4 linked regions of the Homo sapiens genome follow. The protein of the gene in region 1 purifies or fractionates together with the protein of each later gene. This does not show direct contact. Each region holds a gene or a part of one and is shown on either strand. Other genes may lie near its edges.

Region 1 (3,500 bases):
AATCTTCTTCTTTAAGTCAAAGTTTACACATTGCAGTACCACCTCTCCCTTCTCCAAAGTCTTAATACCCAATAAGATCTAACCTTCCAGTTCTTCTCAATCTGCTTGTAAGTTTTTTTGATGGCGGGCAACAGGACTCGGGGTGCAAGTGTGGTAGCCAGTGTCTTTTTAAGAGATGTGAGACGGATATTAGCCTGTGACGCAGAACCCATTTCACTAGTGATTTTCTCCAGATGAATCACCTACAGGAATATAAAAAAAGTGATCAGGGCCACTGCAGATCTTCGCTGACAAACACACACTTACAGAGAGGCTTCATGATGAGGTACTAGTGTTTGGAAAATGCTTAGCACTTTTTAACTACACACAGAATTCCTTTTAAAGTCAGCCCTAAACGTCAGTGGATAAAACTGGGCAGACACCTCTTGCCCAACTTGCGATCAGGGACGAAGGCCGATGGTAGACGCAGACGCACACACAGCACCCAGACAGATGATTTTCTTAGAGGACAGGAATGCAAGGGACCACGGCAAGAGTCAAGTTGCTAAAAAACTGAGAAAGCTCCTCAGAGCACAGGCCCCTTTCTCTGAGAAGGCTACTTTTAAACCCTGGCTGTGGTGTAAGTGAAGCGGTTTAATCATTTGCCCCATGGTAATGAAGGCTCCTAACCTTGTAAATGGCAAATGATCAACACAATGGAACAGCCAGGTCTCAACATTCTTGAGCATCTTCAATCATAAATACCACTGGCCCCTAGCGTGTTGACAGGAAACCGCTGACGTGCAATACAAAAATTCTGCTTTGCAAGATGCCTTAGGATTATACCTCTCACAGTAGAAACAGGGCCCATCAATTTCCACAAGTAATAAAAGGCGGCTCTACCAGCCCAACTCCAAAGATCTCACAGAAGAAAAAAAAGCCAGAATACATTCCGCACAATTAAAGAAGAGAAGCATCTCGCTAAAAAGTGACCCCCATATCAATTTCAAGATTAAGTGGCAAGGATGATGGAAGAGAAAAAGTACACATTTAATAAAAGCAAGCACATCTCTTCAGAAATAAGACTCCTTTCTGTCAAACGGAAACTAACCCTTAAAGAAAAAACAAAATCACTACATTTGTGATCTTTTACCTTCCCCAGCCACCCTGCGTAGCATGTCGTGGCTATCGTGGCTCACCTGGGAGAGAATGCCTTCCAGATAGGGGCTGATGAAGTGCGGGAGAGTCTCCACAACCTTCTGCAGAGCAGCCAAGGCACTGAGCAGGTAGACCTCGCTGGAGACCAGCTCGCTGGTGTTCTTCATTGTTGTCAGCAACGATGGCATCAGGCTAGAAACAAAGTAAGAGCTTTAGAAGAACTTGAAGCAGAAACAGAGGCTAGGGAATGGAGTAGAGGGCATTATGAAAAAAACCAGCAAACTGTGCCTATTACATCGCTATCTGCTTCATAGCCTAAAAAGCAGTGTCTATACATTTTATGTGGCTAAGCACAAGAAATCTCCCAGTGCTAACAGTACGGACACAACAGTAATTTAAAAAATAACAATGTCTTTCATTAACTGAACACTTACTATGTGTCAGGCACTATGCAAAACTCCTTGCAAGCACTGCCCTACAGAAATCCTATGAGGTAGATACTGTCTCTGTTTTATAGACAGCAAAGCTCTAACAGGTTAAGGAACATACTGGCTGTACAGTAAGGAACTACCACAGCCAGGAGCTTCTAACTTCCAAATTTGGCAGCAGAAGGCAGCTTTGGCCTTGCCTAACTGGGTGGGCCCCTCTGCCAAGAACCTTCACCCACTGCTTTTTGACTATACTAGACAAAAGGAAGGAAGAATGGAGGACGATTAACACTGCAAAGTAGTGCATCTGAAGATAAACGGGAAGGCTGCATCTTTCTGTTTGAAGATTAATTATTTTTATTATTATTTCTTTAAGAGACAGGGTCTCACTCTGTTGCCCAGGCTACAGTGCAGTGGTGCAGTCATAGCTCACTGCAGCCTCAAACTCCTGGGCTCAAACGATCTCCCTGCCTTGGCCTCCCAAAGTGGTGGGATCACAGCCGTGAGCCACCACACCCTGCAAGATCAATTCTTTAACAAATTCCAATTTTATGCAACGTCTACTCAGAGGAAAAAAAAAAAAAGTCACCAAAGTGTTATTTTTCAATGTGTGCCAGGCGGTAACAGCTCCTGTTCCAAGTCTCCGGCCGCATACCTGGGAAGCTGGGGGATGGCCAGCGCCTCCAGGGTGGAGGTCACCTCTGCTATGCACAGCAGCGCGCTTCCCAGGACATTCTTCTCCTCCTTTCTCTCTGGAGCAATCAGTTTCACAGCAGTGTTCAGCACTGGGACAAAAGGATCTGGATTTTCTGCACCAAAATTCTTGCATAAAAGCTTTAAGGTATACAACGCTGTCTGTCTGTTGATTGCTTGTTCTTCTTCCCCTTCCTTTTTCTTACGCTGCACAATGGCCAAAAGGTCTGGAACCAGTTTTAGGAAACGGGTAACCTGAAGGGGACAGCCAGAATCCCCAAATCATTAAAGCTGCAAAAAATGTTTGTCCATTTTCCCATTGTCACAGCTTGAGATTGTCTAAATGGAAATCAGACTCGGGGGTCCTGAGTCACACAGTCATGCTAAGCGATGTGCATGTTCTAGCCAGTGTTTCACTTATACAAAGCACCCACTGATCTGGAGTAAAAGGGACTTAGAACTATGCTAAGGCTAAGGCCACGTAAGCTCTGTAGTAAGCAAGAATTCCACTAGGCTGAAATTCCATTCTAAGAGCTCTTACAACACACATATATTCCCGTTAGAATTAACGTCACATTTTAAAACATGTCATGGTATTATATTCAGAAAATAATATACTTCAATTTGAAATTGTACCACTAGAGAAATTGAAGGGAGTTAAATGCAGCTCTTTGATAAAGCAAAGTACAGTAAATGGGTGTGTCCTGGGTCTTCACTCACTATTGTCTTCTTCCAGGATATATTTTGCTGCAGCTTGTTATTCAAAAGGTCCAGCGCTTTGCGGCGAACAGATGGCAGGGGATTGCCCACCAGCCCTCTGATCACAGGAATGAATGTCTCTGTGGGCAGCAAGGCATTGACCTAAAGAGAAATTTTATATTTAACATGAAAAGAAAAACAAATTAAAAAAAAAACCAACTTCAATTAAGACAGACTGCTGTCCACTGCACACCTCCAGGCACCAGGCACTTCCACACACATTTTCTTATTTAATTCTTAAAATAACCTTTCAGGTAGGCATTACCAACCACACATTATCGAACAAAACAAAAGCCTGATGTCAGGAGGAAGTGCCAAAGGCATGCAGCTAAATGACTGAGCTAGATTTGAATCAGCAATCCTAACTTCGAGGCCAGTGATATGTATGTAATATACTTCATACTTTTATTTTATTCCACTTGAATAAAGTAGAACAGTATATATTATATGACTTAATTATTAAAATATACGAGGTACATGTTC
Region 2 (3,500 bases), on another chromosome or scaffold:
CACGATCTTGGCCCACTGCAATTTCCGCCTCCGGGTTCACGAGATTCTCCTGCCTCAGCCTCCTGAGTTGCTGGGATTACAGGCGCCCGCCACCATGCCCAGCTAATTTTTTGTATTTTTACTAGAGACGGGGTTTCACCATGTTGGCCAGGCTGGTCTCAAACTCCCGATCTCAGGTGATCCACCTGCCTTGGCCTCCCAAAATGCTGGGATTACAGGCATGAGCCACCGCGACCAGCCTTAACTCTAACTTTCAAAGGCTAAAGGTGAAAAGATAATGGCTCCTAAACCCGACTAAAACATCAGAAAATGTCTTTTGTCTTTGATTTCTTTTCTTTTTTTGAATATAGGCAATCTATTTTCCTCCCTGCCCCTCTCTCCATATCCCTCCTCCCTGACTTCTTTTTTGTTCTTGTTTAAGGAATCAATCCACGTGGACAGGGAGAAGGGGAAGGGAGAACAGGCACCAAAATGCTACTGGATAGGAAAAAGAAGATAGGTGAATATGGGGACATGGAGAGGGCACGGACGTGGGCGGGCAGTGGAATGGCCCATTTATACTTAGGGTCAAGAACTGGGCCAGGCCTGGAGCATCTGCAATGGGTGTGGAGGCAGCAGAGACAGGAAGTCTGATTTTCAAAGACATCTAAGAAGCAGGACAAGTTCCAGCTCCTGTCCCACCCTGGCAGAAGACAGGTGGCTCCATCTCTGGAGAGGGTGGAATCAGGGTCTCTGACAGAGGAGCCCAGATCCCCCTGGGACAATCAGGTTACTGATTAGGCTACAGCCCTCGCTCACTGGGCTCCAGGATGCAGGCAGCCAAGCCTCCCCTTCCTGCAGGGACCAGGGAGAGTCTTGTGACAATAGCCCGGGAGGACCAACCCGCAGCACTAAGGTCAGAAGGCCCCAACAAGGAAAGGTTCAGCTCACAGAAGGCAGTGCCCATCCCTACAGAGTCCCCCACTCTTAAACATGGGCAGGCCATCTGAGGAGAGCCTCACACAGAAACGGGAAGGCAGCCTAGAGGAAAGAGATCCTTCAGTAAAGAGAAAAGAAAACAAATTTTTTAAAAATCCAGAGAATATACCATGAAATGAAGACCATGTTTTAGTTTTTTAAAAAAGTTCACAGAACAAAAAAGAACTCTTATACATGAAAAAGTATGGCAAAAATAAAATGTAAAAAAATCACTAGAAGAGTCTAAATACAAAAATGAGGAGACGTCCCAAAAGTGCAACAACCTTAAAATGGTAGAAAATAGGAAATAAGAGGATTGGTCCAGCAATCCTATATCAGAATAGTAGTAGTCCCAGAAAGAGATGAAATAGAAAATGGGAGGGGAGAAAATCACCAAAGAATAATTCAAGAAAATTCCCATAACTGAAGAATAAGTGTTTCTGGATTGCCAGGGCACAAAAAATGCCCAACATGCTGGATAAAATACACCAAGGCCTAGCACTGTGGATCTTGGAACACCACGGATGTATCAGTCAGGGCAGGCATTGTTAAACTACAGCAATGAGCAGCCCAAAAGCCCTCAGAGGCCTACAACAACCAAGATTTATTCTTCAAGTTTATTTCAATCGAACAGGGTCATAGCATGGGTGGGAGGGGGTTCTGCAAGCTGAGTATCATCATTGTCAAGCTGAGTTCAGAACCTAACTAGAGGGAAGGAAAACTCTGGCAGCAACTTACACTCGCAGCGAAGTGCAGGCCCAGAAGTGGAAGTAGCACTTCCGCTCAGCTCCTGGGCAGGCCACTGGCACAACAACCATGTGAGGCCATCAAGCTCAGGGAGTGAGGAAGGGAGGGCAATCCTACCAAGAGCCTGGGGGACAGGGGGCTGGACATGTGTGGCGAGCACTGACAACTAGACCCGAAAGGAAGATGCTACAATCTTCAGAAAGAGAAGGACTGGCTTGAAATTCTTCAACAATACTGGAGGCCAAAAAGGATTGGACCAATGCTTCAAAAATTCTAAAGGAACTTTTTTTCTATAATTCTACACTATCAATCTATCAGACATGAAGGCAGAAAATATACTTATGGGTAAAGTCTCAGAATTCACTTCCCATCACATCCAAACCAGGGAGTGAAACAAGAGGGAGTCAGGAAGAGGAAGTCAGGAAACAGAAGTCCTGCAGTGGGTAGGTCCAGGCTGATGTGGGTGCAGGTGGTGAGGCTGGCAGCTGACCCTCAGATGTATCCACAAGTTGCAGTAGAAGGCCCCGGGGCCCTTCTTCAGGAAGGGGTGCTGACCAAGGGGCATCCTGATGCTCATGAACATCATGGGGGAAGACGCGACAGACAACTGGCAAAGAGTTTGGAGTTGGATCTGTCATACTACATAGAAAGCAAGCAAATTAGAACACCAGCCAATTATTCGCTGGAGAAAACAAAAAGTAACCTACAACATGACTCACTAGGAACAGCATTTACATAGTCATGCTTGTAAACACTGCATGATGAGCTCCGTGAGATTATACCACATCTATATAGGAGGGTGGAGAGCATGTACAGGGGCAAAGAGAAGAAAAAAATCATCTCCCAAAGAACAAAGTCACTAGGTAATATCTACAACTGAAAAATCAGGAAGCCAGGTGATTCAATGGCACAATGATAAATACCAAAATAATCAACTAAAAGAAGTGAAATGCCTAGGGGTTGGGTGCGGTGGCTCACGCCTGCAATCCTAGCACTTTGGGAGGCTGAGGTAGGCAGATCACCTGAGGTCAGGAGTTTGAGACCAGCCTGACCAACATGGAGAAACCGTCTCTACTAAAAATACAAAATTAGCCGGGCGTGGTGGCGCATGCCTGTAATCCCAGCTACTCAGGAGGCTGAGGCAGGAGAATCGCTTGAACCCAAGAGGCCAAGGTTGCAGTGAGCCGAAATCACGCCACTGCACTCCAGCCTGGGCAACAAAAGCGAAACTCTGTATCAAAAAAAAAAAAAAAAGAAATGAAGTGCCTGCTTCTGGGGAGAGGGAAATGGTGGCAGGGGATACTGTTTGGCCCTGCAGAAGCTATTTAACTTTTTACACTATATGCATGTTAAAAAAAAATACGTTAAAGGTAATTCAAGCAGTCTGCCCAGGAGCTACCTAGTAGGTTGGCCTGATTTTTGATTCAGCACAAAGGGCAGAAACTGAGTTCTTTCAATGAGCCATTAGCACTGCTATAAATGTTTCAAGGGCTGAAACACATAAGACACAATCCCTGTCCTCAGAATCGGGATTTCATTGAGAAAAAAAAGCCAACATATGAATGGGAAAGAACTCAAGTACAATGCAAGTTAGCAGGTGGTCAACCCTAAGACATGAAGAAGAGTTATGTGGTATCAAGGAGGAGACTCAGGGCCAGAGTAGGTAACAAAGACTTTGGGAAAGATGTAAGGAGGAGAAGGAGAAAGGCTAACAGAACTTGAGTTCTGTTCCCGAAACAGGGAGGGCATTTCTGCAACGGAGGCTGGCTAACAGTGAGGGTGTATATAATTGGGAA
Region 3 (3,500 bases), on another chromosome or scaffold:
TTATGAATCTGGGTGCTCCTGTATTGGGTGCATATATATTTAGGATAGTTAGCTCCTCTTGTTGAATTGATCCTTTACCATTATGTAATGGCCTTCTTTGTCTCTTTTGATCTTGTTGGTTTAAAGTCTGTTTTATCAGAAACTAGGACTGCAACCCCTGCCTTTTTTTATTTTCCATTTGCTTGGTAGATCTTCCTCCATCCTTTTATTTTGAGCCTATGTGTGTCTCTGCACGTGAGATGGGTTTCCTGAATACAGCACACTGTTGGGTCTTGACTTTATCCAATTTGCCAGTCTGTGTATTTTAATTGGAGCATTTAGTCCATTTACATTTAAAGTTAGTATTGTTATGTGTGAATTTGATCCTGTCATTATGATGTTAGCTGGTGATTTTGCTCGTTAGTTGATGCAGTTTCTTCCTAGTCTCGATGGTCTTTACATTTTGGCATGATTTTGCAGCGGCTGGTACCGGTTGTTCCTTTCCATGTTTAGCGCTTCCTTCAGGAGCTCTTTTAGGGCAGGCCTGGTGGTGACAAAATCTCTCAGCATTTGCTTGTCTGTAAAGTATTTTATTTCTCCTTCACTTATGAAGCTTAGTTTGGCTGGATATGAAATTCTGGGTTGAAAATTCTTTTCTTTAAGAATGTTGAATATTGGCCCCCACTCTCTTCTGGCTTGTAGGGTTTCTGCCGAGAGATCCGCTGTTAGTCTGTATTTTCTTATCTGTATTAGTTAGGGGTGGCTAACTGCTGTAACAAATAGATTCCACAGTGTATAATGACCCTAACACAATAGAAGTTGATTTCTCACTCTTACAGACAGGTCCAGATGACTCTAAGTTAGTGAGGTGGCAGCAGTGGAGGGCTCTGCACTACATAATTATTTAGGAATCAGGTTGATGGAGGCTTTGCTGTTTCTACCCGTGGCTTCCAAGGTCCCCGTGGGTGTTAGCATCCATGCTGCAGAAAAGAAATGATCACGGAGTTGAATAACAAGGGAGATTTTATAGACCAGGCCTTGAGCTAGCACAGTCCTAGTCACATTCCTTGGTTGGAACTCAGTTTATATGGCCACATTTAACTGTATGGGAGTCTGAAAAATGTGGTCCAGCTAAGGACCCAGAGGGAAGAGAAAATGGGTTTGGTGAACAGCTAGAGATGATCACATCATATTTAGGATATGTGTGATACCTCTGTATCCTTTTAATTAAGTTGCCATTTTTTTCTTCTACTTGTTTGTGTTGGCCTCTTTTATACCTTAATGATTTGGTGTTTTCATGATAGCCATCTTTAAAATAGTAGAAGAGATAAAAAGTGATTATTATTTTCTCAGGAAAATTGGGCCGATTTCCACCTATGATGCATCATCACCAGGCACCCTCAGATGGCCAGACTCCTGGGGCTCGTTTCCAGAGGTCTCACCTTGCCGAGGCATTTGCAAAGGCCAAAGGATCAGGTGGAGGTGCTGGAGGAGGAGGTAGTGGAAGAGGTCTGATGGGGCAGATTATTCCAATCTACGGTTTTGGGATTTTTTTATATATACTGTACATTCTATTTAAGGTAAGTAGAATCATCCTAATCATATTACATCAATGAAAATCTAATATGGCAATAAAAATCATTGTCTACATTAAAACTTCTTATAGTTCATAAAATTATTTCAAATCCATCATCTCTTTAAATCCTGCCTCCTCTTCATGAGGTACTTAGGATAGCCATTATTTCAGTTTCACATAAGAAATGTTTACTCAATGTTTAAGTGTTTTGCCCCAAAATTCACAACTAACAAGGCAGAACTAGGACTTGAACATGGATCTTTTGGTTCTTAATCCAGTGAGTGATACAATTCAATGCACTCCCCTGCCAAAAAAAAAAAAAAAAAAAAAAAAATTAACATCTTTACAGGCCGAAAAGGAATAAAGATTTTCTAAGAAGAGCTTTTATTATTGGGATTGGCACAGTGATTTCCAAATAGCCATTGTAAGGCCAAATAATGACACCACTTTATCCTGCTTGTTTCTCCACAGGAATTTGAGATGCTGTTTTTAATATTATCTCCAATAATTCTCCTGAGACAGAACTGTCCCTCCTGAAATTAAGCCTGATATTTCCTAGCTCTGGGGAGACATGGGTGTAGGTTCTTTAAAGCAGACCCCCAGTTGAGTTCCACCTCCAGGCAGGCCTTTGCAGGCCCCTGGCCCCTGTACTGTGAATTAGAGGCAGAAGACTCACTTTGCCCTCCTGTCTAGAGTAAGCTTAAATAAGATGAGTTCTTTCTCGCCCAGGAATTCTGCAGGCAGTCTGAGTTGAGTCTGTAAGAATGCCCATAGGGTGCCACACATCCCTTTTAGATGAGCATGAGCAAGGAAGATGACCTGTAGGGAGATTTTTTTTCCCTTGTGTTAGAAATGCTTGTTCTCTGGTGCCATAAAGAAGCAGCACTTGGACGTACATTTAATTTCCTCAGCAAGGCCATTTTTACTTTCTGCAGAAAGGGTACACTCACCAGCGGTTTTGCCGTGAGAGTACACCGAACAAAGGAGACAGGGTCATTTATAACCTGACGCATCCACCTTACTGCTGTGTCCGGTTTCCATTGGCTGGAACGGGACCTCACATTCTGTATTTGTGCTGATTGGCTAGCGACTTAGAACTTTTTAAAAGAGGCAAAGGCAGAGGAGAACAAAGGAAGGAGGAACTAACTTGTGGAATGCTGAGAAAGGTAAAAACACCTTCATATAAGGAAGAGGAACAGGCTATGACCTCATGCTTGCTTTGACAAGTATAAGCATGCCAGGGCAAATATTTAGGCTAAACTGTGGGAGCTAAGAACAGTTGATTTCTTTATTATGGCTAGCAGATATCTAAGCATGTTAGCACAGGTTCTTGAATAAATTTTGCTTCTAAGAGAAGTTACTATTCCTAATTATATGGGGAGTAAAGTCTCTTTGAAGAGGAATCTCTACTTTACTTTTTACACTTGTGCTTTGATAATTTTTTACTTGGAAACCTCATCTTTTGGCGTTTTTTTTTTTGAGCTATTTCTCTAGTGTTGCTATTTGATTTAATTTCTGACCTTCATTTTTGTTTCCCAACCTTTTTTTTTTGTTTGATATGAGGGGTTCCGTGACTGAGGTTCTGAGCTGCTGTTGATGTGCTATACCTCCTTCAATTCTCAGCTCTCAAAGGGGAAAACAACTGCAGAGGATGGGAAATGCTATACTGCCATGCCTGGAAACACCCACAGGAAAATTAGTAAGTGCCCCTTCTCAGTATATTCACAGGTATTATTGAGTCAAACAGTTTTATAGCCACAGGGACAGTCTGTGGGTATGTCTTAAAAGCATTTCTCAAAAGTTGCTCCAAATTAATCTGATGCCATTTTTGCCTTAGTTCTGGGAATTCTCAAAAGTTTTTATATTGATGTACTACAAAAAGTACAAAACCACCAGTTCACTTTTTAATATATTAGCAAATTAATATTTCACGTTTGGAATGACT
Region 4 (2,833 bases), on another chromosome or scaffold:
GCCTCAGCCTCCCAAAGTGTTGGGATTACAGGCAGGAGTCACTGCACCCAGCATCATTCATTTTAAAGCTCTGAAATCTTTTGATTGCATTGGGGTACTGAGATGGATTTTTTTTTTTTTTTTTTGAGACAGGGTCTTGTTCTGTCACTCAGGCTGGAGTACAGTGGCACAATCTTGGCTCACTGCAACCTCTGCCTCCTAGACTCAAGCGATCCTCCCACCTCAGCCTCCTGAGTAGCTGGGACTACAGGTACACACCATGATGCTCAGCTAGTTTTTTAATTTCTTGTAGAGACAAGGTCTCACTATATTGCCCAGGCTGGTGTCAAACTCACGGGCTCAAGTGATCCTCCCGCTTCAGCCTCCCAAAGTGCTGGGATTACAGGTACCAGTCACCACACCCAGCAGATTTTAAAAAATACCTGTTTATCACAAGAAAAACATATTTAAAAAATCATCATTGCAAAGCTCCACACTGTAAGAAGCATGGATCAGTCAAATTATCTTTTAAAAGCCCTCTTTAATTCCAAGGAGATAAAGAAAGTTATTTGTCATTAAACATGTTACATGTATGACTAATATTTATTATAGCTAATATAATAGTTTAGAACAAGGAAATTTAGTAGAGTTGTAACATTTTGGTGCTACATGTATAATTCAGCATAAGCCAAAGCCTTTTTAAAATAACCAATACTATCATTTTATGAAATCTTTACAAGATAAGCACAGTAGTACAATATTTAAGCATCTCAAGTCTCCATTTAAGAGTTGACTATCAAAGAATGACTGTTATAAATAAAGAGCTCTATGATGTTCCACTTATTTAGTCTTAATAAGGTAGGGAAATAAGTGACATACTTTTTAGAAGAATCCATGCAGTGGACAGAAAGTCAGATTAGGTAGTCCCTAGGGATCCATCCAGCTCTGGGAATCTATCATCAGATGGCCTCTAAGGTTTCTTCTAGCTCAGAAAATAGAGGTACTTGGAACATAATTTTTTAAATTTTAAATGGTTATATAGGTTAATAGTATTTTTTGCTTTTCAAAATTCATTGCTGGTGATGTCTATTACTTATTTGATGTCATGTCTTTGGCCAGGAATGCAATCCTAATTAGCATTGTTCCAGGAAAACATTTCATTTTATAGGGAGCATATCCCAGAAACATTAGAAAATACTAGTCCCAATATAAGTAACATTTACCAACTAGACTCTGGGCTACACTTTAAAATATCTGATGTTCAGCCAGGTGTGGTGCTTATGCTTGTAATCCCAGCACTTTGGGAGGCTAAGGCAGGAGGATCTCTTGAACTCAGGAGTTCAAGACCAGCTTGGGCAACATAGTGAGACACTGTCTCTACAAAAAAAAAAAAAAAAAAAATTAATTATAAAAAAAAAAGAAAAAATATATCTGATGTTATTTCTATCTCTCAAGTTCAACAATAAATAATCCAAAGTACATTTTTATTTGCAGCAAAATTTAAGACAGACAGTACTTTCTTTTTTCTTTTTTTTTTTTTTTTTTTGAGACAAGGTCTGGCTCTGTCGCCCAGGTTGGAATGCAGTGGTACAATCTTGGCTCATTGCAACCTCCACCTCCCGGGCTCAAGACATCCTCCCATCTCAGCCTCCCAAGTAGCTAGGACTACAGGCACTTACCACCATACCCAGCTAATTTTTGTATTTTTTGCAGAGACAGTGTTTCACTATGTTGTCCAGGCTGGTCTCGAACTCATAAGCTCCAGCGATCTGCTTCAGCCTCCCAAAGTGCTGCAAATACAGGTATGAGACACTGTGTCCAGCTGATGGTACTCATAAAAGTAGGCATCTAAACTCAATACCTGAAAAACAAATGTGATGTTAAATTACATCTGAAATTTTAAAAATGTATTTAAAAATCCAAATAAAGCTTACAATTTCCTTATTTCCTTTATTTTAATGTGTCAAAAAAACACTTAAAGATATTCTTGTAAATACATATAAGCTGTGTGTCAACATTCAGTACTATGCAAATCATTTTTCAATATGACAAAATGAAAAACTTACACACTTTAGGGTAGCGCTTAATACTTATCTTTGAAATCTATTGCTGATGCTAGGTCTAAAGAGCAATGACTCAACCAGAAAAAATAGTAAAGGCTGCCTTTTCCTTTTTAAAGTGCTTATTAGCTTTATATCCAAAAACAATGGTTTTTACAAATACATAATACTGAAAGGTGCTCAAAAAGTCACCACTTACAGAATTGAACATGTCATTTTCTAACTCTGCACATGTAAACTTGTTTTATCTGCATTAATGAAGATTGCTTCAAATGGCTCTCAATCATATGCTTCAAATCAAGACAGTGCTAAGTTCCAGCAGCATAAACAGTGACAGCAGAACAAACCCCAGCACATTTTCAGTGGATCACAGCAGATCAGAGAAAGTGTAACAGCTTTTGAGTATGTTATACATCCAAGAGCCTTATATTTCACTCCACATAAACAGTAAACATAAAAGAAAAAAGAAACACTTTGTCTCCCTATAGAGCATTTTATAGTATAGGAAGGGATTCAAATTCTCTTTTTAACAAAATTCTTGTTTCTATATAGAGGAGATTTTATATTCTTAATGTTTACAACAAAGCCTATTTCCACCAAAAAAGCAAGAAGAAATTAATAAATGAAATCCTGAACTCTAAAAACCTAAGAAATAAAACTGTGAACAATTCTGAAACGGAGTGTTTTTTCTAAAGGCTAATACAAACATACCAAAATAGAATTTCTGAGCACGAACTATGTGATTTCATTTCAATCGTATCACTTTCATCTGATTGAAATAATTTAGAAACAAT

Evidence for each region. The genes of interacting proteins can lie anywhere in the genome.
Region 2: the proteins of HEATR1 (region 1) and UXS1 purify together in Homo sapiens (co-immunoprecipitation; one large-scale study listed by IntAct). This does not show direct contact.
Region 3: the proteins of HEATR1 (region 1) and RIC3 purify together in Homo sapiens (co-immunoprecipitation; one large-scale study listed by IntAct). This does not show direct contact.
Region 4: the proteins of HEATR1 (region 1) and OSTM1 purify together in Homo sapiens (co-immunoprecipitation; one large-scale study listed by IntAct). This does not show direct contact.

What each region holds. Positions count from the first base shown.
Region 1 is NC_000001.11:236,556,017-236,559,516, forward strand, and holds part of HEATR1 (HEAT repeat-containing protein 1), read right to left. Parts: intron 3,120-3,500; coding exon 2,979-3,119; intron 2,514-2,978; coding exon 2,221-2,513; intron 1,330-2,220; coding exon 1,179-1,329; intron 243-1,178; coding exon 84-242; intron 1-83. UniProt on the Homo sapiens protein: Ribosome biogenesis factor; required for recruitment of Myc to nucleoli. Involved in nucleolar processing of pre-18S ribosomal RNA. Required for optimal pre-ribosomal RNA transcription by RNA polymerase I.
Region 2 is NC_000002.12:106,187,802-106,191,301, forward strand, and holds part of UXS1 (UDP-glucuronic acid decarboxylase 1), read right to left. Parts: intron 1-3,500. UniProt on the Homo sapiens protein: Catalyzes the NAD-dependent decarboxylation of UDP-glucuronic acid to UDP-xylose. Necessary for the biosynthesis of the core tetrasaccharide in glycosaminoglycan biosynthesis.
Region 3 is NC_000011.10:8,138,026-8,141,525, reverse strand, and holds part of RIC3 (protein RIC-3 isoform a precursor), read left to right. Parts: intron 1-1,332; coding exon 1,333-1,559; intron 1,560-3,178; coding exon 3,179-3,254; intron 3,255-3,500. UniProt on the Homo sapiens protein: Molecular chaperone which facilitates proper subunit assembly and surface trafficking of alpha-7 (CHRNA7) and alpha-8 (CHRNA8) nicotinic acetylcholine receptors.
Region 4 is NC_000006.12:108,040,909-108,043,741, forward strand, and holds the end of OSTM1 (osteopetrosis-associated transmembrane protein 1 precursor), read right to left. Parts: 3' UTR 501-2,833; downstream 1-500. UniProt on the Homo sapiens protein: Required for osteoclast and melanocyte maturation and function.